Linked DNA regions of Homo sapiens: region 1 is linked to region 2. Evidence: fine-mapped expression QTL. A gene starts in region 2. The other region holds a variant in brackets. All regions are shown on one strand. Distances are from middle to middle.

Region 1 (12,197 bases), 29 kb after region 2:
ATAAACCAAGTAAACACAGGGAATTGATATTTACTGTATTCAAAATCAGAAGAGACATTTAAAGATACTTCATGTGTGGGCTGTGCTGGAGCATGAGCTGAGCCTCAGTTCCTGCCACCTCTGTGTTTAGTTTCCGGATTTTCCATGTTTCCTATCTGTTTCCTGTCTGTTTCCCTGATCCAGTTTGGGTTGGTTGCTACTGAGCATGCAGGTTCCCTTTCTGTAGTTACATTGTTTAGTGAAAAAAAGCAAGGTTCAGCACAGAGCATAATATATATGCTCAGGTAAAAGGGGGCAATGATTGATGGATGGAGCCCCAGTATATTGATAACTGCCTCTGGGAATGGCCCTGGAGGCATGGGATAGGTGGTCAACTTCACAGTGTACCTTTTAGAGTGGGTGGGTATTTTTTATTTACAAGTATTTCATTTGATTATGAAATATTTCATATATATAAAATAATACAGTGTTTACACAAGCGTAAAGATTAATAAGAGAATAAAACAGTTGGCTGGGCGTGGTGGTTCATGCCTGTAATCCCAGCACTTTGGGAGGCCGAGGCGGGCGGATCACCTGAGGTCGCAAGCTCAAGACTAGCCTGACCAACATGGAGAAACCTCGTTTCTACTAAAAATACAAAATTAGCCAGGCGTGGTGGTGCATGCCTGTAATTCCAGCTACTCGGGAGGCTGAGGCAGGAGAATCACTTGAACCTGGGAGGCGGAGGTTGCAGTGAGCTGAGATTGTGCCATTGCACTCCAGCCTGGGCAACAAGAACAAAACTCCATCTCAAAAAAACAAAAACAAAACAAAAGAAAAACCAGTTGCTGCTGTGCCGACATTCCAGTTAAGAAAAAGACCATCATCCTGTCTTGAAGCCAGAAATAGTACTTAGACATTTCAGCAGTGGAGGGGCCGCCTCCGCCCCGCTCCAGCGGCCTCTGTCCCTCCTTGTCCTCTTCTGGCCTGAGGCCATGTCTGTGTACACAGTATCCGCAGAACTATCTTTATACTGTTAGAATCACAATCCACATAAATTTTGGGTTTGAAGTCCCATTTGTAAACCAGAAGATCTTTATTGTTGCTTCTATTTTCTGGATAATTTCTTTCTTTCTTTTTTTTTTTTTTTTTTTTAACAAATTGCTTTTTAAATTATGAAAGTAAGGCTGGGGACGGTAGCTGACACCTGTAATCCCAGCTCTTTGGGAGGCCGAGGTGGGCGGATCACCTGACTTCAGGAGTTTGAGACCAGCCTGGCTAACATGGCGAAACCCTGTCACTACTAAAAATACAAAAATTAGCCGGGCTTGGTGGTGCACACCTGTAATCCCAGCTACTCGGGAGGCTGAGGCAGGAGAGTTGCTTGAACTGTGAGGCAGAGGTTGCAATGAGCCTAGGTCGCTCCACTGCACTCCAGCCTGGGCAACAGAGCGAGACTCCATCTCAAAAAAAAAAAAATTAAAAAAAGGAAAGAAAGTAATATGGGCTGGCAGAAGGCAAGAAAATAAAATCTAAAGCCCCTTCCCACATTCCCGACAGTTGGGTGTGTTCCTACACAGATAAAAGTTCACATTTTAAAAAGATAGATGGGACAATGGTGTTCTTTCTGCCTGACGTCTGCTGGAAGTGTGTCCCAGCTAGACGTGCAGACCAACTGTGCTGCTTTCCAGAGCCATCTTCCCCTTTACTCTGGCCAGGGGCAGGACAGCGCTCAGCACCCCCGGGCAGGTGGCTCCCGAGAGCTGAACACTGTCACCCACTAGTGTCTGGTCTCTAGTGGCAGCCCCACGCTCGCCTTCTCAGCTTGCTCTTTGGCGCTCACTGGTTTGTTCTCTTCTGCCTTGTTCCTCTTTTCTCCCCATGCCAATATCAGTGAGAAAGGATCTTTTTTGATAGTAGGTTCGTAGGTGATGTCCTAAAAATTTTCATAAATACAGAAAAGAACGATAACATTTAGCCACCACCCAGATACATATTTTAGATGAAAAAGAAGTACAGAGGCCGAGTGTGGTGGTTCACGCCTGTAATCCCAGCACTTTGGGAGGCCGAGGCTGGCAGATCACAAGGTCAGGAGTTCGAGACCAGCCTGACCAAGTTGGTGAAGTCCCGTCTCTACTAAAAATACAAAAATTAGCCTGGCATGGTGGTACCCGCCTGTAATCCCAGCTACTCAGGAGGCTGAGGCAGGAGAATCACTGACACCCAGGAGGTGGAGGTTGCAGTGAGCCGAGATTGCATCATTGCACTCCAGCCTGGGACTGTCTCACTCAGTCAGAGTGAGACTCCATCTGAAAAAAAAAGGAAAAGGAGTACAGAAAAGCTGTGGTTTCTATTGTCAGCACTTTTCTGTACTTGGACATTTTTTACAATGAGCTTTTGTTACTTGTTTAGTTACACACGTGATTTTGAATACTGCATGAGTATTTTCAGAGGCAAACCATGAAGAGCTCTGTAGTGTGTTGAGTCTCAGATGGATGACTGCATAGTCAGTTTTTCTTTAAATCTCTCTGAGGCTCTGGATTTTTGAACCCCCTATAGAATAACATTTCCCAACCTCTTTTGTTTTTTGTTGTTGTTTTTGAGAGAGACTCGCTCTGTTGCCCAGGCTGGAGTGCAGTGGCACGATCTCGGCTCACTGCAAGCTCCACCTCCTGGGTTCACGCCATTCTCCTGCTTCAGCCTCCCAAGTAGCTGGGACTACAGGCACCTGCCACCACGTCCGGCTAATTTTTTGTATTTTTTAGTAGAGACGGGGTTTCACCATGTTAGCCAGGATGGTCTTGATCTCTTGACGTCGTGAGCCACCACGCCTGGCCTCCCAACTTCGTTTGACTTATGTGTGATCTCTGAAATGCTTTTAGAAATTTTAAAAATTACTTGTCATTTTTGCATTTCCAGAGAAGCAGTTTTAAGTTTTCTTTCGTGTTTAATTTGGATCGATATTGTTATTATGTTGTATTGAGTTGGTTTTAATGCAGGCTTAAGTGTTCCTGATGTTTAAGGTTAAAATTTTAAATGATTTAAAATCTAACTGCATGTTAACCCATTGAAAAAAATTTTTAAACCGCTTAGATACTATATGCCATATTTGGTTTTAAACAATGTGTACACATTATCTATTCCCAAAAAAGTACATTTTAAAAAAGTGATTCACTCAGTAATTGAGTTAGACACTTAGATGTCTTATATTCTACACTTGAAAGTCGAGGTCTCCTTTACTAACCCGGATATTCTGTTGAAGATGAAGGTTTGTGATTGTTATTTATGAGCAAAGTGTAAAAGCCCGTTTCAGTTCCAGAAATATCTTGAAATGCCCTGTGAGAGTTTTCTCTGTGAGAGAAATGCAGACGTACAGAGGTGGCCAAGGGGACCCTGAGCACACCTGCAGGCTTCTGATCATTGTTAATGCTTCTCATTGATGTCTGTTTCGGCACAAATACAATTAACATCCAGTTGTACCTAGATGAGCCTGGGCCAGGGCTGGAAGCAAAGCTCTGGGGCTTTTCTGGTTTAAGGGGAAAATTAATACTCAGACAGTTGATACGCGTGAACTCTCCACAAAGTGACTTTGTGGTCACTCTGACCGAGGTGCCTGGCAGCCTCTGGGGAACTGCCGTGCCTGGGCAGGTGCAGCTGTCTGGCTCAGCCTCTCCAGGCTCATCCCGCCCACCTCCCCGTTCAGTTCCCACTACTGTGTGGCTCGCCATCAGGCCTGGGTAAACATGGCCTCTGCCCCCTCCCACCCCCCACCCCAGCAGCTGCCCTTGTGCAATTAGGCTCTTGTGGACCCTTTCTGATCTCACTTTTGTTTCCATAGGGAACTGTACCTGGGGAATGAATTGTAGGTTTATACACCCTGGAGTGAACGACAAGGGGAACTACTCCCTAATCACCAAAGCCGACCCCTTCCCGCCTAATGGTGCCCCGCCTCTCGGACCTCACCCGCTGATGCCCGCCAACCCTTGGGTGCGTGATGCCTCTTCTTTCATTGTTAGCACATCAGCCAACTGAGCTGTGTCTGAATCTCAAGCTTAAGACAAGTCACTGTGCCTTAGCACAGGCTCAGTGCCCCCTTTCGGCTGCTTCTGTCGTCCCGAGTGGAAGCAGGCCTCGGCTTTCCGAGGACGGAGTGAGGCTTGGTGGAAGGAGAGCGGCCACACACGGCCGGCTTGTGTTGTAGTTGATGTTTTTACTGTCTGGTTTCTCTGTACACTTGAAAGTTTTACTTTCTCACCTTCTCCCTTCTCGTTTTTCAATAGGGTGGGCCGGTAGTTGATGAAATTTTGCCTCCACCCCCTCCAGAGCCCCCAACAGAGAGTGCCTGGGAACGAGGACTCCGGCATGCAAAGGAGGTAAACACAATTCAGCAGAAATCCCGACAAGAAAGATGCTATTACAGGAGTGGTTCTTGACAAAACTGGGATTTCCTCGGTCCAGAGAGAGCCCCAGAAATCTCTGAAGTTAGGCGTCTGTTTCTGTGGTGTCTTTCTTTATTTTTTATTTATTTATTTTTTTGGAGACAGAGTTTCACTCTTGTTGCCCAGGCTGGAGTGCAATGGCCCAAACTCGACTCACTGCAGCCTCCGCCTCCCAGGTTCATGTGATTCTCCTGCTCGGCCTCCCAAGTAGCTGGGATTACAGGCATGCGCCACCAGGCCCGGAAGGATGGAGAGTTATATCTAACTGTCTCAGGCAGCAGCCCAGTAGGCCAGGGAGTTCAGTCCAGGGCATACCCACTGTCTTCATGGGGCTGGATCAGCACTGGGCCACACCCCAGCTGGCACTGCCCAGGAGCACAGGGTGCAGTCTCCAGCCACTCACAGAAAGCCTGGCGAGGCTGCCCGAGCCGCACCCCCAGGATCTGCACCCCACACTCCTGAGACTCAGTGTCTGCTCTTCCTGGAGAAAACTTGGAGCTTTCTGGTCCTATCACTGCACACTTCCTCCCTCTAGGCCCACGTTGGCCCCAGTGTGTGAGCTTCAGCTCTGGGGACCACTCTGCTGGCACCCAGCCCCACTTCCTCATTTTCCTGGTCAGCCTCCCTGCTGGGAAATGACGGACAAGATGTTCCTTCTCACTCCCTCGGCATGTCACTTCCTTCCCTCTGAGACTCCAGCCACTCCACCTGCTGCTTGTCACTGAGTGACTGAACCCTGGATCTAGTTCCAAGGGTAGTTGAAGGAAGTGATGAACACCTCATGTGGGCACACGGAGGCCGGGGGCAGCTGTTTGTGCAGAGACGGGCACAGACTGCCCTCCCCAGAAGGACAACTGTGCTGTGTCCGCCCCTCACCCCTTGAGCACTTGCAGCGTGCAGCTCCTGCTCCTGCAGGGCTGCTGCGGTCGGGTGGGACGGCTCCCTTTGTGTTTCCTAACAGCGACGCCCGGTATTCTGTTCCATGTTGACTTCTTTCTTCTTACAATGGTAGGTTTTAAAAAAAGCAACTATTCGAAAAGAACAGGAGCCTGATTTTGAAGAGAAAAGGTTTACGGTGACCATTGGCGAAGACGAACGGGAATTTGACAAAGAAAATGAAGTTTTTCGAGATTGGAATTCTCGGATCCCGAGAGATGTCAGAGACACAGTGTAAGGAATGGCCCTGCCTGCCCCTCCGTTTCCTTCCTGCATGCGGCCACGCTCCGGAGAGAGCAGCCATGTGCAGGGCCCCAGGGTGCGCTCGGCTGAGACCCAGCCCCACTCACTGGAGTCTCAGTGACGTTCCTGAGAGCATTCAGGCACGGTTCTCAGAGCTCATCTCAGTTTTTTGCTTCTAGGAAGGAAGCGTTAGGGCTCTGTGCCATGGGCCTTGACTGGCAGCACTCACACCGTTGTGGTTCCTGAGCTCTGAGAGTTTTCGCTGCTGTCCTTGAGGCCTCTAGAGCCCCACAAGTCTGTGTTTCTGGCTCCTCACCCCTGCCCACATTACCCAGGAGCCAGGAAACGTGTGGAGGTT[G/A]CCACAAGCCAGGAACACAACAGCTGCGGCCTCTTCGCTGTCAGGGCTGTTCTGCCTTCACTGCTTCTCCTCCAGGGCATTGATGGCTGGTTTTTGTTTTTTGGTTTTTTTTCCCGAGGCAGAGTCTTGCTCTGTCGCCCAAGCTGGAGTGCAGTTGCGCAATCTTGGCTCACTGCAACCTCCGCCTCCCTGGGTTGAAGTGATTCTCCTGCTTCAGCCTCCTGAGTAGCTGGAACTACAGGTGTCTGCTACCACACCCAACTCAGTTTTGTGTTTTTAGTAGAGATGGATTTCACCATGTTGGCCAGGATGGTCTCGAACTCCTGACCTCAAGTGATCCACCCACGCCTGCCTCCCAGAGTGCTGGGACTACAGGCGTGAACCACTGCACCCAGCCCCTTTATGCCTGGTCTTTAAAAATCCTGTCTTAACAGAAGAAGTGCCTGGGTCGAAGGGTGGAAGTCAGATCTTGGGGGATTGCATGGCATATAAAGTGCTGTTTTCCTCTGCCTGTGGATGGCACGGTGAGGTTCAGGGCAGGGAACTGGATTATAATTCGGGCAGATCTGAATTGGCACTCCATCATGCTGAGGCTTTAGCAGCCCTGTACATTTCTGGTTGCTATTAGGGAATCATAATCACTATGATTTCTATCTGGAGTGACAATAAACGGTGCTCAAAAAAGGAAGGCGTGCAGGGCTTGCACTCCAGGATTTGGTCCTGTCGACTTGGCCCTGCAAGGCCCTTCTCAAGGCCTTCTTGCCGCGAGCAGGCTACCCTGGGCTTTCCGCCTGCGGAAGTTGGGGGAGGAAGCCCCAGTGGCCCACACCTGCCCCAGCAGGTGAGAGCTTAGAGGTTAAAGGGATAGGTATTTAAAGACTTGGTTAACATGTACATTTTCTAATTAAGTTTTGTGTGGAATGTCAGATCACAGAAAGGAGCATTTGAGTCAGAACTCTGCAGGATCACCAGGGGTGTCTCCTGAAGCCCTGGAGGCCTTTGTGTTTTTTTGTTAGATGTGGATATCGTCTTTCCTTCCCCAGAGCTCGTGTGCACAGAGGTCTCTATAAATATGTGTGGGGAAGGATGGATTTTAGAACCTGGGCGTGATCCTTGACACTCTATTTCCAGTTTCCCTGGCTGGAGCAGGGACCGGAAAACTGCCTGCTTGGAAGTGGTTCGGCAGGTCTCTGAGGTTTTTTGGAGTGCCCTCTGTGTGTGTTTTACCTATCAGTGTTGGTTACAGAAACAGGTGTCTCCCATCCTGGCACCAGGTGACAGAAGCTGGCTCCTGGCTCCCTAGCTTCTCTCCCAGGAGCCGGTATCTACACTGCAGGACCCCCAAATGTTAAAGTCTCGGCAGTCAGGGCTGAAAGGTTTTCACTGGTGTCTGAAAGCCAGGTATTTCTGTATGTTTGTATTTTGTTTGTTTTTATAGAGTAGCCTCTGTGTATGTTACAGTTAACCTGAGGCCTTTTGTGCCATGCCTCCCCCGAGACCTGGTGAGTCAGGACCTCTGGGAACAGGGTCAGGGTGCATGTGTCACAGTGGCGAGGTGCCCTGGCTGTTTCTGATAGACACAGTGGAAAGAACTGTCAGGGTTCTGCCAGGAGGGTGGAGACCCCCCTATGATTGTCACAAAGAGCATCTAAGGGAAGGGTGGGTCCACCAGGTAGGTTGCTACAGAGGAAAACAGTGAGTAGAGGGAGCCAGTACAGCTGGGCTGCTGAGACCCGGAGGGAAGGAAGGAGCTGCACTGCAAGTGCAGATGTCCTGGTGCGTGCTGTTGGCAGGAGTGGGTCCTCTTGTCACCCAGCCTTCTCGGTCCTACCTGTGCCCGCTGCAGGCAGGGCCTCACCTGGAACAGCTGGCAAAGCAGGTCGCAGCTTGTAGGGTGTGCAGGAGGGTGGCTGGCAGCCCAGTTGGCGGTCAGGCTCCAGGGCCTTAATGGCACAGAAGAGGCCAAGCCAGCAGCACTTATGTGTTGCAATCCTGCTGCATGACAGGCTTCGCATCCAGTGCTCCTGACCTGTTTTGGGTCACAGCAGGCCGAGGTCAGGGCCATGTCCCTGCCTCACAGGTGAGGAGAGTGCAACCTGGATTGATAGCTGTGACCTCCTGGTGTGGTGCCTTAACCTCAGCCACATCTGCCCCCAGCAGCATGTGAGAGGTCAGATTCTTAGCTCGACCCCAGGAAGACTGAGTCTGAAACTCCAGGGAGAGCCCAGGCCAGTGGTTTGTTTTTAACAAGCCCTCCAGGTAATTCTGATGCATATTAAAGTTTGAGAACCATTGATTGTAAGTAATTCCAGGGACACAAATTCTCTGAAGATACCATGTTATTTTATTTCCTAATGTCGAGAGTTTTCTGTTGGTTTTTTGAGATGAGGTCTTGCTATGTTGCTCAGGCTGGTCTCCAACTCCTGGACTCAAGCAATCCTCGCGCCTGAGCCTCCTAAGTTGCTGGGAATATAGACGTTAGCCACCTGATGTTGAGTTTTGCAAATAATTGTCACATAGAAGCACCTTCATGCAGGCAGGCTTTGCTTACTACAGGATGGAGCTCTAGGCACTTCATTGTAGAACCAGTGGAATATGAGGACTTTTCGAGAAGTCTTGAGGACATAAAGGACAAGAAAATTGTTGTTCCTTCTTTTTTTTTTTTTTGAGACGGAGTCTCGCTCTGTCACCCAGGCTGGAGTGTAGTGGTGCCATCTTGGCTCACTGTAAGCTCCGCCTCCTGGGTTCACGCCATTCTCCTGCCTCAGCCTCCCGAGTAGCTGGGACTACAGGCGCCCGCCACCACGCTCAGCCAATTTTTTGTATTTTTTAGTAGAGACAGGGTTTCACCATGTTAGCCAGGAATGGCCTCAATCTCTTGACCTCGTGATCTGCCTGCCTCGGCCTCCCAAAGTGCTGGGATGACAGGCGTGAGCCACCGCACCTGGCCTGTTTTTTCTTTATATCTCTTTTGGAATTAAAAACTGACCTAGCAGGATCACTTAGTAAACATAATACTTTGTGGCCGGGCACGGTGGCTCACGCCTGTAATCCCAGCACTTTGGGAGGCCAAAGCGGACGGATTGCCTGAGCTCAAGAGTTTGAGACCAGGCTGGGCAACACGGTGAAACCCCATCTCTACTAAAATACAGAAGAAATTAGCAGGGCGTGGCAGCATGCACCTGTAATCCCAGCTACTTGGGAGGCTGAGGCAGGAGAATTGCTCGAACCTGGGAGGCGGAGGTTGCCAGTGAGCCAAGATCATGCCCCTGCACTCCAGCCTGGGCAACAGAGCGAGACTCCGTCTCTTTTTTTTTTTTTTTTTGAGACGGAGTCTGGCTCTGTCGCCCAGCGTGGAGTGCAGTGGCGCAATCTGGGCTCACTGCAAGCTCTGCCTCCTGGGTTCACGCCATTCTTCTGCCTCAGCTTACCAAGTAGCTGGGACTACAGGTGCCTGCCACCATGCCCGGCTAATTTTTTTTTTTTTTTTTGTATTTTTAGTAGAGATGGGGTTTCACCATGTTAGCCAGGTTGGTCTCGATCTCCTGACCTTGTGATCCACCGGCCTTGGCCTCCCAAAGTGCTGGGATTACAGGCGTGAGCCACCGTGCCCAGCCCCATTTCTTAAAATAATAATAATAATAATACTTTGCTAGACAGACGCACTCTGATTCGCAGCTTTAAATATTCCGTTTCTACCACCTCAAGCACTTTGTTCAGGTACCATCTGACTTATAAAACCTCACATATTGGCTGGATACAGTAGCTAGTAATGTCTATAATCCTAGTGTTTTGGGAGGTCAAGGTTGGCAGATCAGTTGAGCTCGGGAGTTGAAGACCAGTCTGGACAACATGGCAAAACCCCATCTCTACAAAATATACAAAAATTAGTTGGGCATGGTGGCACGCACCTGTAGTCCCAGCTACTCAAGAGTCTGAGGTGGGAGAATCTCTTGAGCCCGAGAGGTGGAGGTTGCAGCAAGTGAGATCGTGCCACTGCACTCCAGCCTGGGTGACTGAGTGAGACTCTTTCTCCAAAAAAAAAAAAAAAAGTTCTCACATATGTAAGACATTAAGAAATGAAATGACGGCCGGGCACAGTGGCTCACGCCTGTAATCCCAGCACTCTGGGAGGCTGAGGCAGGCAGATCACAGGGTCAGGAGATTGAGACCGTTCTGGCTAACATGGTGAAACCCCATCTCTACTAAAAATACAAAAAATTAGCCAGGCGTGGTGGCGGACACCTGTAGTCCCAGCTACTCGGGAGGCTGAGGCAGGAGAATGGCGTGAACCCAGGAGGCGGAGCTTACAGTGAGCCGAGATGGCGCCACTGCACTCCAGCCTGGGCGACAGAGCAAGACTCCATCTCAAAGAAAAAAAAAGAAATGTCATCTCTGCATAGGGCTCCTGGGGATGCTGTGCCCAGAATATTCTACAAGTCTAATAGGGACATGTGACCCAAAAGACACAAGGGCCTCTAGTGCGCACAGGACGTCACCTGTGAGAAATGCGGTCATCAGTAGTAGCCCCACCGTGAACAGAGTTTCTGATTAAATCAGAGTCAGGCTGTCAGGCCATGGCCAGGGCCATGGACTGGGCCCCTGCCAACTCCCCATACGCCCCCAGCACAGAGAGTAGTGCAGTGCCGGTGTATTAGAGGCGGAGGTGCAGGCTGCTGTTCTTTGGAGTAGGATGTCAGGCTGGGATACAGAGGAAACAGAACAGTAATTTTCAAAAAGCACACTCCCTTTCCTCAGGTAACAGGTCTACCAGATGCTGGTCCAGCACCTCCTTTGTCCCAGATGCTTAACTGAGAGAGCACAAGTGGCTTTTACCTGGGATTTGCTGGTGCCCTGTGGGGAAGCCCCCTGAGTGAGCAGGGAGGGAGGGTTGGGCTACCTGGAGAGTAAGACAGGGCCTGCTCCACATGGGTAAGCCCACAGTCCCACAGACTCAGGGCAGATGGATGTATGGGTGCCCAGGCATTGCCTGTGGCCTCTGCATGCCTTTGGGGACCTCCTCCCCTGCCTGCACTTTCAGTGGCCAGCGTTGCAACAGGAACGTGGGCAACAGGCAGGTGGGCACCAGGTCGACCATGCTGGGTTGGGGTGAGGGCAAGAGGCAGCAGGGGGCTGCGTCGCTGCTCCCTTTGTGAGCTGCCTGGGACCCTCCTTTTCACCTTGGGTCTCTGCAGCAAGCAGGGACACGTGAGCATCTGACTCCCACCCTTTGCAGAGCACAGCCTCCCTCCACCTGGGTTGAGGTCAGCACGATTTCAACCTGAATTGTGCAAATGCAAGTTGCATTTCATTGTGTAATATTGCATAACCCTTAGATTAAAAGTGAGTAGTGTTAGACATTTTAGAACTTTTTCCTAGTACTTTTTGAGATCCAGTTTCCTTGTCACTGAAATGAAATGGTTAAACAAAGTGATCTCGAAGCTCCAAACTTCTGTCTTACACGTTCTCTAATTGCTCGACTTTTCACCTGCCATGCCTCTCCCTGGGCAAGGCTGTGGGCAGAAACCACCTGCCCCTGATGGGCATGTCCAATGGTTCCCCTTAGCCAGGACCTCGGGTTCTCCTCTCCAGCGAGGAGTAGGTCCACTCCACGTGCCAGTGCTGAGTCTGACGCTGCCCAGACCTCTGGGGACGCGGGGCCTCTGGAGTGCAGATTCCACGTGTGTGCACAGGACACTGTTGGTGTTGGCTGGTTAAGTGGTGACTGCAGAACGAGGTGCGAGCCTCCCAGTTGCTGCGAGCCAGCTTTGCCCAACCTTGCTTCACCACAGAACCCTTTTCTCAAAAGGCCCATTAACATTTTGGGTTCCCTAAAACAGTTGGGGAAGAGTTTGTGCATACCATGATACTGCCCAGTAGCATTTATTTTTAAATTGAATTAAATACCTTCCAAATTCATTTCAAGAGTGTTTCAGAATTTTTCAGGATGGTGCTGAGGAGTCCGTTGTTGGCATGGTTGCAGTTCCTGGTGGCGTGTTGTGTTGACACGTTCTCTAGAACGCATGCTGCGGAGCAGATGGTTCCGAGGCAGCCACGCTGAGGAAATGCTGTGTGCCTCATTCCTATCCGCTCATCCACGACTTCCAGAAAGCCTGCAGGAAAGAGGCCTTTTCATTTTGCTTAAGTACAGTTTCCCAAAAACAAATTTGCCGGCACAGTCCTCTTGTCAGAGAACACACGCCTCACACATTTTGGGAAAGGCTTTTCTACCCTATTGGGCT
Region 2 (12,197 bases):
ACCACACCCGGCTAATTTTTGTATTTTTAGTAGAGACAAGGTTTCACCATGTTGACTAGGCTGGTCTCGAACACCTGACCTCAGGTTATCTACCTGCCTCGGCCTCCCAAAGTGCTGGGATTACAGGCATGAGCCACCACACCTGGCCTAAAGTTGATTTTTAAAACTAGCTTCCTGCCTCTTCCCTCCCAGTTTCCACCCCCAATTGGCAACAAGTTTTAACTCTTTTCATGGTCTCTTCCGGCATTTTCCCGATCTCCAGTAATATTCATACCAATGTTTCTTGACTTTTTCTTAATAAGGGCACTAGTCACACTCCCAGCAGCAGAGTACGTGATTCTAGTTGCTCCACATTCTTGTGAAAAAAAAAATATGAAATTAATTTTTTAGACCAGTTTTAGGTTTAAAGAAAAATGAGAGGCCAGGCACAGTGGCTCACGCCTGTAATCCCAGCACTTTGGGAGGCTGAGGCGGGTGGATCACGAGGTCAGGAGATCGAGACCATCCTGGCTAACATGGTGAAACCCCGTCTCCACTAAAAAATACACAAAAATTAGCCAGGCGTGGTGATGGGCGCCTGTAGTCCTAGCTACTCGGGAGGCTGAGGAGAATGGCGTGAACCTGGGAGGTGGAGCTTGCAGTGAGCCGAGATTGCGCTACTGCACTCCAGGGTGGGCAACAGAGTGAGACTCCATCTCAAAAAAAAAAAAGAAAAATGAGCAGAGTTCCCCTGTACCCCCAGCACCCCTGCCCATCTCCCCTCTTATTAACACCCTGCACTGGTGCAGAACATTTATTACAATTGAGATAGGAGGCAGGACTTGACTCCAGAGGCAGGGCTTGGAGCTGGGACCAAACAGGACTGGCTAAAACAGGGCAGGGCAGAAGCAGCTTTTTATAAGACACACCAGACTGGGCGCAGTGGCTCATGCCTGTAATCCCAGCACTTTGGGAGCCCAGGCAGGCAGATCACCAGAGGTCAGGAGTTTGAGACCAGCCTGGCCAACATGGTGAAACCCTGTCTCTACTAAAAATACAAAAATTAGCCAGGCATGATGTCCCATGCCTGCAGCCCCAGCTACTCAGGAGATTGAAGCAGAAGAATTGCTTGAGCCCAGGAGACAGAGGTTGTGGTGAGCCGAGATCAGGCCACTGCACTCTAATGTGGGTGACAGAGGGAGACTCCGTCTCAGGAAAAGAAAAAAAAGACACACCCACCAGTGTTCTGTGTCAGTTTACCATCGCCATGGCAACACTCCCACCCCTTTCCATGGCAATGACTCAGTGACCCAGAAGTGACTACTCCTTCCCCAGAAATTTCTGCATAAACTGCCCCTTAATCTGCATGTAATTAAAAGTGGGTATAATGGGTCTGCAGAAGTGCGTTGAGCTGCTGCTCTCTGCCTTCTGGGCAGCCCAGCTCTGCAGGAGCCGTCACGGACCTGCCACACTGCCTCTTCAATCAAGTTGTTCTCTTCTACCTCCGGCTTGTCCTTGAATTCTTTCTTGGGCAAAGCCAAGAACGCTGGCAGGCTAAGCTCCACTTTGGGCCTCACCTGCCCTGCATCACAACCAACCAGCCCGTATCGGGACACGATCATTGACTTAAGTCCACAGTTTACATTACAGTTCACTCTTGGCGTTGTGCGTTATGTGGGTTTTGGCAAATACGTAACGTCCCATAGCTGCCATTATGGGACATTACATATTTGTACTTCTTCATACAGAAGAGTTTTGCCACCCCAGAAATGAGGCTTAAAAGTCATTTACCCACTTCCTGCTCTGGAAGAGGAGGGTCTGTGCTCTCACCGCCTGGCACGCCGTGTTCCATCCAGCCTCTGCTCTCTGAATGGTTTTTAGGCTAAATAAAATGTTTACTAAATATTTTTAAGCACTAATAACAATAACGGCCTTATGCAGTGGCTCACACCTGTAATCCCAGCACTTTGGAAGGCCAAGGTGGGAGGATCGCTTGAGGCCCAGAGTTTGAGACCAGCCTGGGCAACAGAGTGAGACCCCCACCTCTACAAGACCCCCACCTCTACGAAATGAACAAATAAACAAACATGATGGACTCCAGCTTAAAAACAGAACATCCCAACCAGGTCACGCTACTGACTATCAGCCCCCACCGCAGGCTCCGTGGCACTGCCTCCTGGTCACTGCTCCTGGGGCCCCCATCACCGCAGATTCGGCTGCCTGTAATGAGTCGCAGCAACACGAGCCGAAGCATTTGTGTCTGGTTTCTTCTGCGCAACATCCTGCCTCTGAGATCCATGTTGCTTGTAGGGGTAGCGTGTCCTTTTCGTTCCTGTACGATATTCCATTGCATGGGGGTTACACCCCAGCTGGTTCATCGTTCTGTCACTGAAGCACCTTGGGGTTCCTTCTAGTCCGGAGTGTAACGAGTCATGCTGGGGTGAACGATCTTGGATGTGCCTTTTGCTGGACGTAGCAGCTCATCTCTTCCGGGAAGTCACAGAGGAGTAGCACGGCCCAGGTGCCGCCGCACGAAGGCTGCGGTTCCGTGAGCGCCGTCGCAGGCTTCTGGAGCGGGGCCACCATTTTCACTCGAGCACAGGCCGCAGGCTCTGGGTGCCCCACACCCTCAGCAAAACCGCTCATGATTTCAATTTGATAGAAACGTGGACCGGGCGCAGTGGCTCACGCCTGTAATCCCAACACTTTGGGAGGCCGAGGCGGGAGGATCACGAGGTCAGAAGATCGAGACCGTCCTGGCTAACACGGTGAAACCCCGTCTCCACTAAAAATACAAAAAAATTAGCCGGGCGTGGTGGCGGGCGCCTGTAGTCCCAGCTACTCGGGAGGCTGAGGCAGGAGAATCGCTTGAACCCAGGGGGCGGAGGTGGCAGGGAGCCGAGATGGCGCTACTGCACTCCAGCCTGGGCGACAGAGTGAGACTCTGTCTCAAAAAAAAAAAAAAAGAAAGAAAGAAAGAAAAGAAATGTGCCCACCCTGTCTGCTTCTGCACTTGCCTTTGTCATGCAACCTCACAGATGGTCTTCACCCGTTTATTTATATCTGTGTATACACACTGGAGGTTCATGCGTTAGCATTTTTAACAACCGCGATGTTGCAAATGTTGTACCAGATTACTATTACAACAGTACAATCATCTGCTCATCAACATCTGGGTGGTTTTCTGGTTTTTTCCTTTGTTCTTTTTTTTTCTTGAGACGGAGTCTCGCTCTGTTGCCCAGGCTGGAGTGCAGTGGCATGATCTGGGCTCACTGCAAACTCCGCCTCCCGGGTTCATGCCATTCTCCTGCCTCAGCCTCCCGAGTAGCTGGGACTACAGGCGCCCGCCACCACGCCCGGCTAATTTTTTGTATTTTTAGTAGAGACGGGGTTTCACTGTGTTAGCCAGCATGGTCTCGATCTCCTGACCTCGCGATCTGCCCGCCTCGACCTCCCAAAGTGCTGGGATTACAGGCATGAGCCACCGTGCCCGGCTCCTTTGTTCTTTTAGTTATGACTACTAACAGACCTGCTATGTCCTTGTTCATGTCTCATGCCCACGGGCAGATGACACCCCAGTCCGGTGGCCCACCTGTACCACTGGGCATCAGAATCCCCTGAGAGCTCTTCATGGACCACAGGGCCCTGGGACCTCACTCCCAGTCACTGGTGCGGCCACTCTGGGGCAGAGCCCAGGAAGGCACATTGCTAACAACCCCTAGTGATACTGAGGCTGCTTGCCCGGGTCCCACTTGGAGAACCCTGTCGAGGGTGGCACTGCTGGTCACAGGGCACTTCTTTTAACTAACATTGTTTTCCAAAGAGGCTGTGACCAACAGAGTTTACTGTTCATGAAACTCAGATCGCAGACAGGCACGTGTCTGTCACAGCCGGTGCCGGCCGCTCCTTTCCATGGACAGTAACGTCCATGCAGGCTTATGTTCATCAGCTGAGAAAAGGGCACTTGCTGGGTGGGACCTTGTCTTATCGACACATAGAGTCTGCAGAAGGTGCCAACTGGTGTCGCAGGGCTGCTCCTGACACGACCCAAAATCACCAGGGTTGAATTCACATTCCTCTTACGTAACCATAACAAGTTGCTGGGACTACAGGCACGCACCACGGTGCCCTGTTAATTTTTTTGTAGAGACAGGGGTCTTGCTTTGTTGCCCAGGCTGGTCTCAAACTCCTGGAGGAGGTGGTCCTCCCACCTTGGACTCCCAAAGTGCTAGGATTACAGGTGTGAGCCACAGTGCCAGGCCTGTGGTACCTCTTCCAAGGACACTAATCCTATCAGATCAGGACCCCACCCTTATAATCTCATTTAACCTTAATTACTTCTCTAAAGGCCCTTTCTGCAAACACAGTCACATTGGGGATTAAGGCTTCACATACAAATGTTAGGGGGACAGAACTCGGTCCATAGCATGGAGTCGCACAGGTTTTGTCCTTTTGCGATTGGCTTGCTTTACTTAGTATGTTTCCAAGGTTCACCCATGTTGTGGCATGGGTCTGAACTTCACTCTTCTTGATGACTGACTCACACTCCACTGCATGGACAGCCAGCATTTTGTCTGTTCCTCAGTTTGTGGACATCTCGCCCCCTTGTTTCCACCTTGGGGATATGGAGGAAGATGGGATGAGCGAAGCCCTGTGATCCCCAGGACCAGCCACGTCGTTGGCAAGGGTCAGCGCAGGATGAAACCGCCGGCCCCTGGTCTCCGGCCGGGCCCTCCGTCTCTAGAGCAGCTCGCACCGCTGCAGCCCCTGGACGCCCCGGGCTGTGGACGCGCCCGTGGGACACCGCGCTGAGCAGGACACGCGACAGGTCCCCTCACTGGCGCTGCTCGCGTTGAACCGCGCGGGGAGCCAGGCAGCCCACGGGAAAGGTAAGAATTGTTAGGCTTTTAATCTAAAGTCGATACCTCAAAAAATAATTCCGGAGGTAAGCATTTAATATCAACATTCAATAAAGCAGGAAGTATCAGCCCGACGAAGACCGCCTTAAGTTTTCCACTTTGATGAACTCGATCATCCCCGGGGATGAAGAACCCGCCGGCCCAGCCGGAGCCCCGTCACGTGACCCGGCGGCCGCGGGGAGCTCTGTGCGCAGGCGCGGATCCGCACGCCCGCCGCCTGAGAAGCGAACTCCCCGTGGCGCCTGCGCTGTAGCGGGGGTTCGGCTGGCTCGCGCGGGTCCGGGCGCGCGCTGCGGGGGCGGAACCGCGCGGAGGCCGGAAGGAAGCTGGAGGGGGCGGGGCGAGGGAGGGAAGCCCGCCGGCCGTAGGACTACCGTCGCGGCCTGATGACGTCGCACAATGGCCGGCCCCCGCGGGTAGTGGAGCCCGTTTGTTCCGCCCGTGTCGAGCCTGGAGCCAGAACCTGTGAAGAGCGGAAGGGCCAAGGGACGTCTTCTCCACGCCGCTCCGACTCCAGGGGAGCCGTGGCCTCCTCTCCGCCCTAGCGCTGAGGTTAGCTGGGGCCGGGAGGGCGGCGGGAGGCCGGGCCGGCGGCGGCGGGAGGAGGAGGCCGCCGAGGCGGCGGCGGCGGCCGCGGGAGGGAGGCCCGGGAGCCCGGCGCGCCTCCGGCCGTGCGGACCCACCGGCCGAAGCGTGGCCCTCGGGCCCAGGGAAGGGGACCTTGAGACAGGCACCACCCCGAGTTCCGTCCGTAAGCCGGCCCCGCGGTCCTGGGGCGCCCTGGGCGCCCGAGCTCCTCGCGCGCTGCCTCCGCGCCCCGCGGCAGAGTTTATTTTCCTGAAGCTGTCATTTCTCTTCCGGGCCACTCGCGTGGCACATGTGTGCCGCCGGCTAAGGGGCGGTGAGAGGCGCCCAGATTCACCTCCAGAGTAGGTCATCCCGGGCTGCTGCTGGGCTCTTCGGAGAACTTTGAGCTCTTTATGAACCTCCTGGAACTTGCTCCGCAGCTTCAAAGTGTGCACAGGTTGGGCGCAGTGATTGCCCCAAGACGCGCGCCGGTCTCTTAGGAGTATGTAACTTCCTTGCCCCTTGGATTAGGAGATCAGAGGTGCTGGGTCCTTTATATAGACCAACTGCAGCTATAATGCTGGAAGAACTGAAACTTAACAGCCTTACTCCTGCCAAACATTTTTCCTGAATACTTTATGACAACTGAGTTTGCCGGGTAGAGTGGCCGTTTTAAATGAGCTTTGTTCGAACAACGCTAACTCATTTGCAAGAGTAGGTCATTCTTCAGACCCATTTGGGAAAATGGAAGAAGAGAGTGTTTGGCATCTGAAGTACCGTTTGGGGTGTAGCAAGGTGCTCATCATGTCTCCTGTTAGACTCACCTCCAGCCTGTTGTCTGTAGAGTAGTCCTTTCCCGTTCAGTAGTTGGGATTATCCGGGTGAGGTTTGACCTCGGCTGAATCCCGCTTCCCAGCTTTGGGAGGAGAGTCTTTTCCTGATAATTTTACTATCTAAGGGCAGTATGGAGCCCAGCCAGCCCTGGAACCAGTCAAATGTGTCCCAAAGCCGGAAACTCCTCTCCCGTTGTAGGTGGGACATGCTGAAATATTGTAAGAAAGCTTTGTGGAGTCACTCCAGAAAGCAAACAGGTAAGTTAACCTATGGCCTACATCGTGTTTACAGAGATTTGTATTTTGTCACAGCTACAGAGCATCTCAAGGTGAGTACCTCTTTATCAAGGAGTTTAGTGGTCACGCTTGGTCACTTTGCACGTGGGGTCTGTCACCAACCTTGATAACGTTCATTTAGATATTTTAAGTCCATGAGGTTATGAGTCAGAATTTTAACCAGATGTACCAGAACTTAGGCATTCAAATAGGTACTGCTCTGTTGAAAGTAATTGTCCCAAAATGTGCTTGTATTTCATCGGTGCTTCTTTGCCAGAATCTCTTTAGAACTCCTGTTGTGGTAGTAAAAATGTAGTCATATGGGAAAATCAGTCTTATTCAATAGTCACCCTCCAGGTTTGACCAAAAGTTTACTTACGTGGTTGGTAGCTCACCTTATCAGGTGAGACTCTGACTTGCAGCACTTTATCAAAGTGACTAGCTTGAGAGGAGGAAGATTTGCCACCACTAAGAATACCAGAAGACTTCTTTAGGCTTGGAAGGTCATTCGCAATGAGAAGGTCCCCAAACGCTCTGCATTTCAGCAGTGCCGTTGGAGTCTGTGCATCCTCCCAGAGGGGCTGCTCGGAAGGGAGGTAGCACCTGCTCTTTATTATTACTATTATTTTTTGAGACGGAGTCTCACTCTGTTGCCCAGGCTGGAGTGCAGTGGCAGGATCTCGGCTCACCGCAACCTCCTCCTCCTGGGCACTTATTTTAAATTCCTTTCTGGTAGGCAACAGGTAGTTCCTCAATTAACGAGTTTTTTGTCATGTATTCAACAAATATCTATCAAGTATCATCTGCCAAATGCAGAAAGCAACGGAGACGGGACGATGGGCACTTGTTATTTCATTCCTTAGGCAAGTTCACCCATCTGGTGGATCAGAGGACTAAGGATTTAGTTCTAAATTGTGCTGAAAATCTTCAGTTATAGATAGTGTAAGAAGACCAAACTGAGCACAAATTGCAAACGTGGGTATCAGTTGAGACTCTTCTACTGACACCCCTGTCTACACTTCTCATTTCATTGTCTACACTTAAGAGGCCACGTTTCCCTTCGTAGCACCTTATTACTATTTTTTGAAACGGAGTCTCACTCTGCTACCCAGGCTGGAGTGCAGTGGCATGATCTCGGCTCACTGCAACCTCCTCCTCCTGGGTTCAAGTGATTCTCCTGCCTCAGCCTCCTGAGTAGCTGGGACTACAGGCACGTGCCACCATGCCCAGCTAATTTTTGTATTTTTAGTAGAGACAGGGGTTTCACTGTGTTGGCCAAGGTGATCTCGAACTCCCAACCTCGTGATCCTCCCGCTTCAGCCTCCCAAAGTGCTGGGATTACAGGCATGAGCCACCACACCCAGCCAATTGTGTGATTTTTAAAACTAGTTTGAGGAGACATTTAGTTTTGCATAAAAGTTGGTTTATTTAAGAGATCACTTTGTTTCCAAGGTTGACATTAAACTATAAAACATGAGAATCAGAATTTGTCATATTTCAGGTCTGGGTTCAGCTTGGGGCATCCTACTGGGCACCAGGCGCTCCGCTTAGGCAGCTGGGGAGATGTGAACTACCTGCCCTTCTATGAGGAAGATGTTTATACATTGTAATAAAAAGTGTACGAAGATAGTATAGGGTGTTACTAATGTCGATAGCTAGGCAAGAGAGAGAATTGCCAGTTTGCCACCGGTGACTTACTGCCACAACCCCACGCAGACTCCCAGTCTTGAACAGTCAGTGCGTAGAGGCCTTAGCAGCCTTGGTGCTTTTCATCCTTGCTTTTGTTGCCTTGGGCTGCAGAAATGCTCTGTGCATCAAGCGCCCCTGTGATACTGTTTGGGGATCAGCTCCTTGACTTTCCCATTTTCAGCAGTGTATACCAGTTTAGGACTACCTTTAATAAAAAGACGAGGGTCTTACCATGTTATCTAGGCTGGACTCGAACTCTTGGGCTCGAGTGATTCTCCCACCTCAACCACACAAGTAGCCGGGATTCCAGGTACATGCCACCACTCCTGGCTTAGGACTGACTTTTTAATAATTCCTCCCAGTAGTCCTGTCTCTGGATAGTAACCGAATAGTGTACTTAGAAAACCAAAAAGTGAATCATTTTCAGAACTGTCTGCTTTTAAGTGACTTGGAATGGATTGGTTGGTTTGTAAATCTATGTTATTGCTAACCATTTAGGTTTTTTTTTTTGAGACGGAGTTTTGCTCTTTTTGCCCATGCTGGAGAGCAATGACACAATCTTGGCTCACTGCAACCTCCGCCCCCCCGAGTTCAAGCAATTCTCCTGCCTCAGCCTCCCGAGCAGCTGGGATTACAGATGCCCACCACCATGCCCAGCTAATGTTTTGTATATTTAGTAGAGACAAGGTTTCACCATTTTGACCGGGCTTGTCCTGAACTCCTGACCTCAGGTGATCCACCCGCGTCAGTCTTCCAAAGTGCTGGGATTACAGGCGTGAGCCACCACCCTTGGCCCATTTAGTTTTTATAAAGTGATGAATTTTAAATGATTTGAATTTTCTTTTGAGACGGAGTCTCGCTTAGCCACCACCTAGGCTGGAGTGCAGTGGTGTGATCTCGGCTCACTGCAACCACTGTCTCCCAGGTTCAAGCGATTCTCTCGTCTCAGCCTCCCAAGTAGCTTGGATAACAGGCACCTGCTATCATGCCCAGCTAATTTTTGTATTTTAGTAGAGACCGGGTTTCACCATGTTGGCCAGGCTGGTCTTGAACTCCTGACTTCGGATGATCCACCTGCCTTGGCCTCCCAAAGTGCTAGGATTACAGACGCGAGCCACCACGCCTGGCCAGATTTGGGTTTTTTTGGCTTTTTTGTTTTTTGTTTGAGTCAGGGTCTCACTCTGTCACCCAGGCTGAACTGCAGCCTCAACCTCCTAGGATCAGGTGATCCTCCTATCTCAGCCTCCCAAGTAGCTGGGACGACAGGTGCCCTACCACACCCAGCTAATTTTTTTTTTTTTTTTTTTTTTTTTTGGTAGAGATGGGGTTTTGCTATGTTGCCCAAGCTGGTCTAGAACTCCTGGACTCAAGTGATCCGCCCACCTCAGCCTCCCAAAGTGCTGGGATTACAGGCATGAACCACCGCACCTGACCAATTTGTTCTAATGTATCTTTTTTTTTTTTTTTTGAGACGGAGTCTCGCTCTGTCGCCCAGGCTGGAGTGCAATGGCGCGATCTCGGCTCACTCCAAGCCCCGCCCCCTGGGTTCACGCCATTCTCCTGCCTCAGCCTCCCGAGTAGCTGGGAACACAGGCACCCGCCACCACACCCGACTAATTTTTTGTATATTTAGTAGAGACGGGGTTTCACCGTGTTAGCCAGGATGGTCTCGATCTCCTGACCTCGTGATCCACCCGCCTCGGCCTCCCAAAGTGCTGGGATTACAGGCGTGAGCCACCGTGCCCGGCCTCTAATGTGTACTTAATCTTAATGATTTCCATTAACAGCAAAAAAAAAAAATGTTTAACTGTAGGTTGATACCAATTCTTGATACTGTGCATCTTTAAACAGGTTGTATTAAAAGTATAAATTTAAAAGATGAATATTTTTATCTTTAGTGTGTATGGTTATTTGAGATACAAGACATATAAATGTGTATGTGTATGACTTGCTGCGTCCGTAGTTATCTTGAGATGAATAATCTGTTTCCAGACCTTGCCGAGATGCCGAGCAGTGTGACCGTGACATACGTTATTTTAACAGCCTCACAGACTGAACAGTCAAGTGACCGCTGACCTGGCACTGTCCCTGCTGCTCCACACTCACTTGGTGGTGACTAGCTGCCCTGGTAGTGGTGGTGTGGCAAGTGTTTGCCAGGCAGGTGTTGCCGTTCTACACCTTCCTACCCGTCTTAACACCGTCCACTTTTAAAGCATGGGTAGCAGTGTACTTTCTATGAGTTTTTGAGGAGGGAAACTCGAAAATATTAACTTTATAATTTAATCTGGATTAGTAAAAATAGGAATGAAGTCTGAAGTGACCCCGTCTTTTTTTGTTTTTTGAGTTTTTTTTGGAGATTGGTCTCACTCTGTTGCCCAGGCTGAAGCACATTGATGCAGTCTTGGCTTACTGCAGCCTCCACCTCCTGGGCTTAAGCGATCCTCCTGCGTCAGACTCCCAAGTAGCTGGGAATATAGGCACGCACCACCACACTCTGTGACTTAGTTTTTGTTTGTTTGTTTGTTTTTGTTTTTGTTTTGAGACGGAGTCTCACTCTGTCGCCCAGGCTGGAGTGCGGTGGCGCGATCTCAGCTCACTGCAAGCTCTACCTCCTGGGTTCACGCCTTTCTCCTGCCTCAGCCTCCTGAATAGCTGGGACTACAGGCGCCTGCCACCACGTGCAGCTAAGTTTTTGTATTTTTCATAGAGACGGGGTTTCACCGTGTTAGCCAGGATGGTCTCGATCTCCTGACCTCATGATCCACCTGCCTCGGGCCTCCCAAAGTGCTGGGATTACAGGTGTGAGCCACCGCGCCTGGCCTGAATTTTAGTATTTTTTTTTTACAGAGACAGGGTCTCACCATGTTGCCCAGGCTGGTCTCGAACTGCTGGGCTCAAATGATCCTCCCGTTGCAACCTCCCAAAGTGCTGAGATTGTAGATGCGAGCCACCGTACCTGGCCAGCCTCGTCTTTTACATACGCGCGGTACTTAAGTGTGTCAAGTTTCCTGCCAGAGTTCTTTTCGACAGCAGCTACCTGTATGGGAAGAGGGGTTCTCAACTTAGGAGTGTGAGTTGCTGAGCGGGTGAACACAGCCCTCTCGACACCTGCTGGAGGGGCCAGTGAACACGCAGGCAGGGCTCTGAGCCTGCATTGCTAAAGGGCAGCCAAGGGATTCTCGGAGGCCCTCAGAGGCTGGCCTTCGAGAAGTGTGTTCAGTAACAGAAAAGGCTCCAGACTTGGACACTGCCGAAGGCTGGCCCAGGTTCCTGCTTCAGGATGACTCCAGAAAAATGGTGAGATCTGGGCCTGCAGTTTTGCTTCCTCGTTCCATGATACAGTTTATCTTTAATTTCAAAAGTAAATACTCCTCTAAGAATTCACACAGCTGTCCTTTGCGATCCGTATCGTTACTCACTTTCTGTTAACTCGTGTGGGCTGCCCTTGAGCGGGGAAGGGCTAGGCCAGGCTGCGTCTCCTTCTGCCACATCTCATTTTGCCAGATTGCCAAAAACGGGAGGCACTTAACACCCAGCTTAGCTGAGCAGTCTAGCCTTGTGGAGTGGAGTTATGGCCTGTCTTTCTCTGCAGAGTGGAGTGTGGGATTTGGGGCAGGGCCGTGTGGGACCAAGCAGGATGGAAGTCCTGCTGCTTCAGGCCAGGAAAGTAGGGACAAGGTTTGTTTTCCATTTTGCTAAAGGCTGTCAATCTGTATTCTCTCTTTTGCAGAACCGTGGGTACCGATGGATGTGGCCGAGAGCCCTGAACGGGATCCTCACTCTCCAGAGGATGAAGAGCAGCCACAGGGACTCTCGGACGATGACATTCTGAGGGACAGCGGGTCCGATCAGGATTTGGACGGGGCGGGGGTGAGGGCTTCTGATCTGGAGGATGAGGAAAGTGCAGCCAGGGGGCCGAGCCAGGAGGAGGAAG

Evidence for each region. PIP is the estimated chance that this variant, and not a neighbour inherited with it, causes the effect.
Region 1: its variant is fine-mapped to the expression of ZC3H18 in whole blood (TOPMed, PIP above 0.99).

Annotation. Positions count from the first base shown.
Region 1 is chr16:88,594,361-88,606,557 of GRCh38, forward strand. It overlaps ZC3H18 (zinc finger CCCH-type containing 18), which reads left to right. Exons shown (of 18, transcript NM_144604.4): 4 at 3,818-3,966; 5 at 4,260-4,352; 6 at 5,431-5,588. Among named protein-coding and RNA genes, the nearest start is that of ZC3H18, 30 kb to the left of the region's middle. The variant G/A (reference allele first, on the strand shown) is at 5,956.
Region 2 is chr16:88,565,117-88,577,313 of GRCh38, forward strand. ZC3H18 (zinc finger CCCH-type containing 18) reads left to right here and starts at 5,287. Exons shown (of 18, transcript NM_144604.4): 1 at 5,287-5,450; 2 at 11,994-12,197. The coding sequence starts at 12,008. RefSeq lists enhancers at 4,468-4,577, 4,688-4,737, 5,828-5,877 and silencers at 4,978-5,307, 5,488-5,557.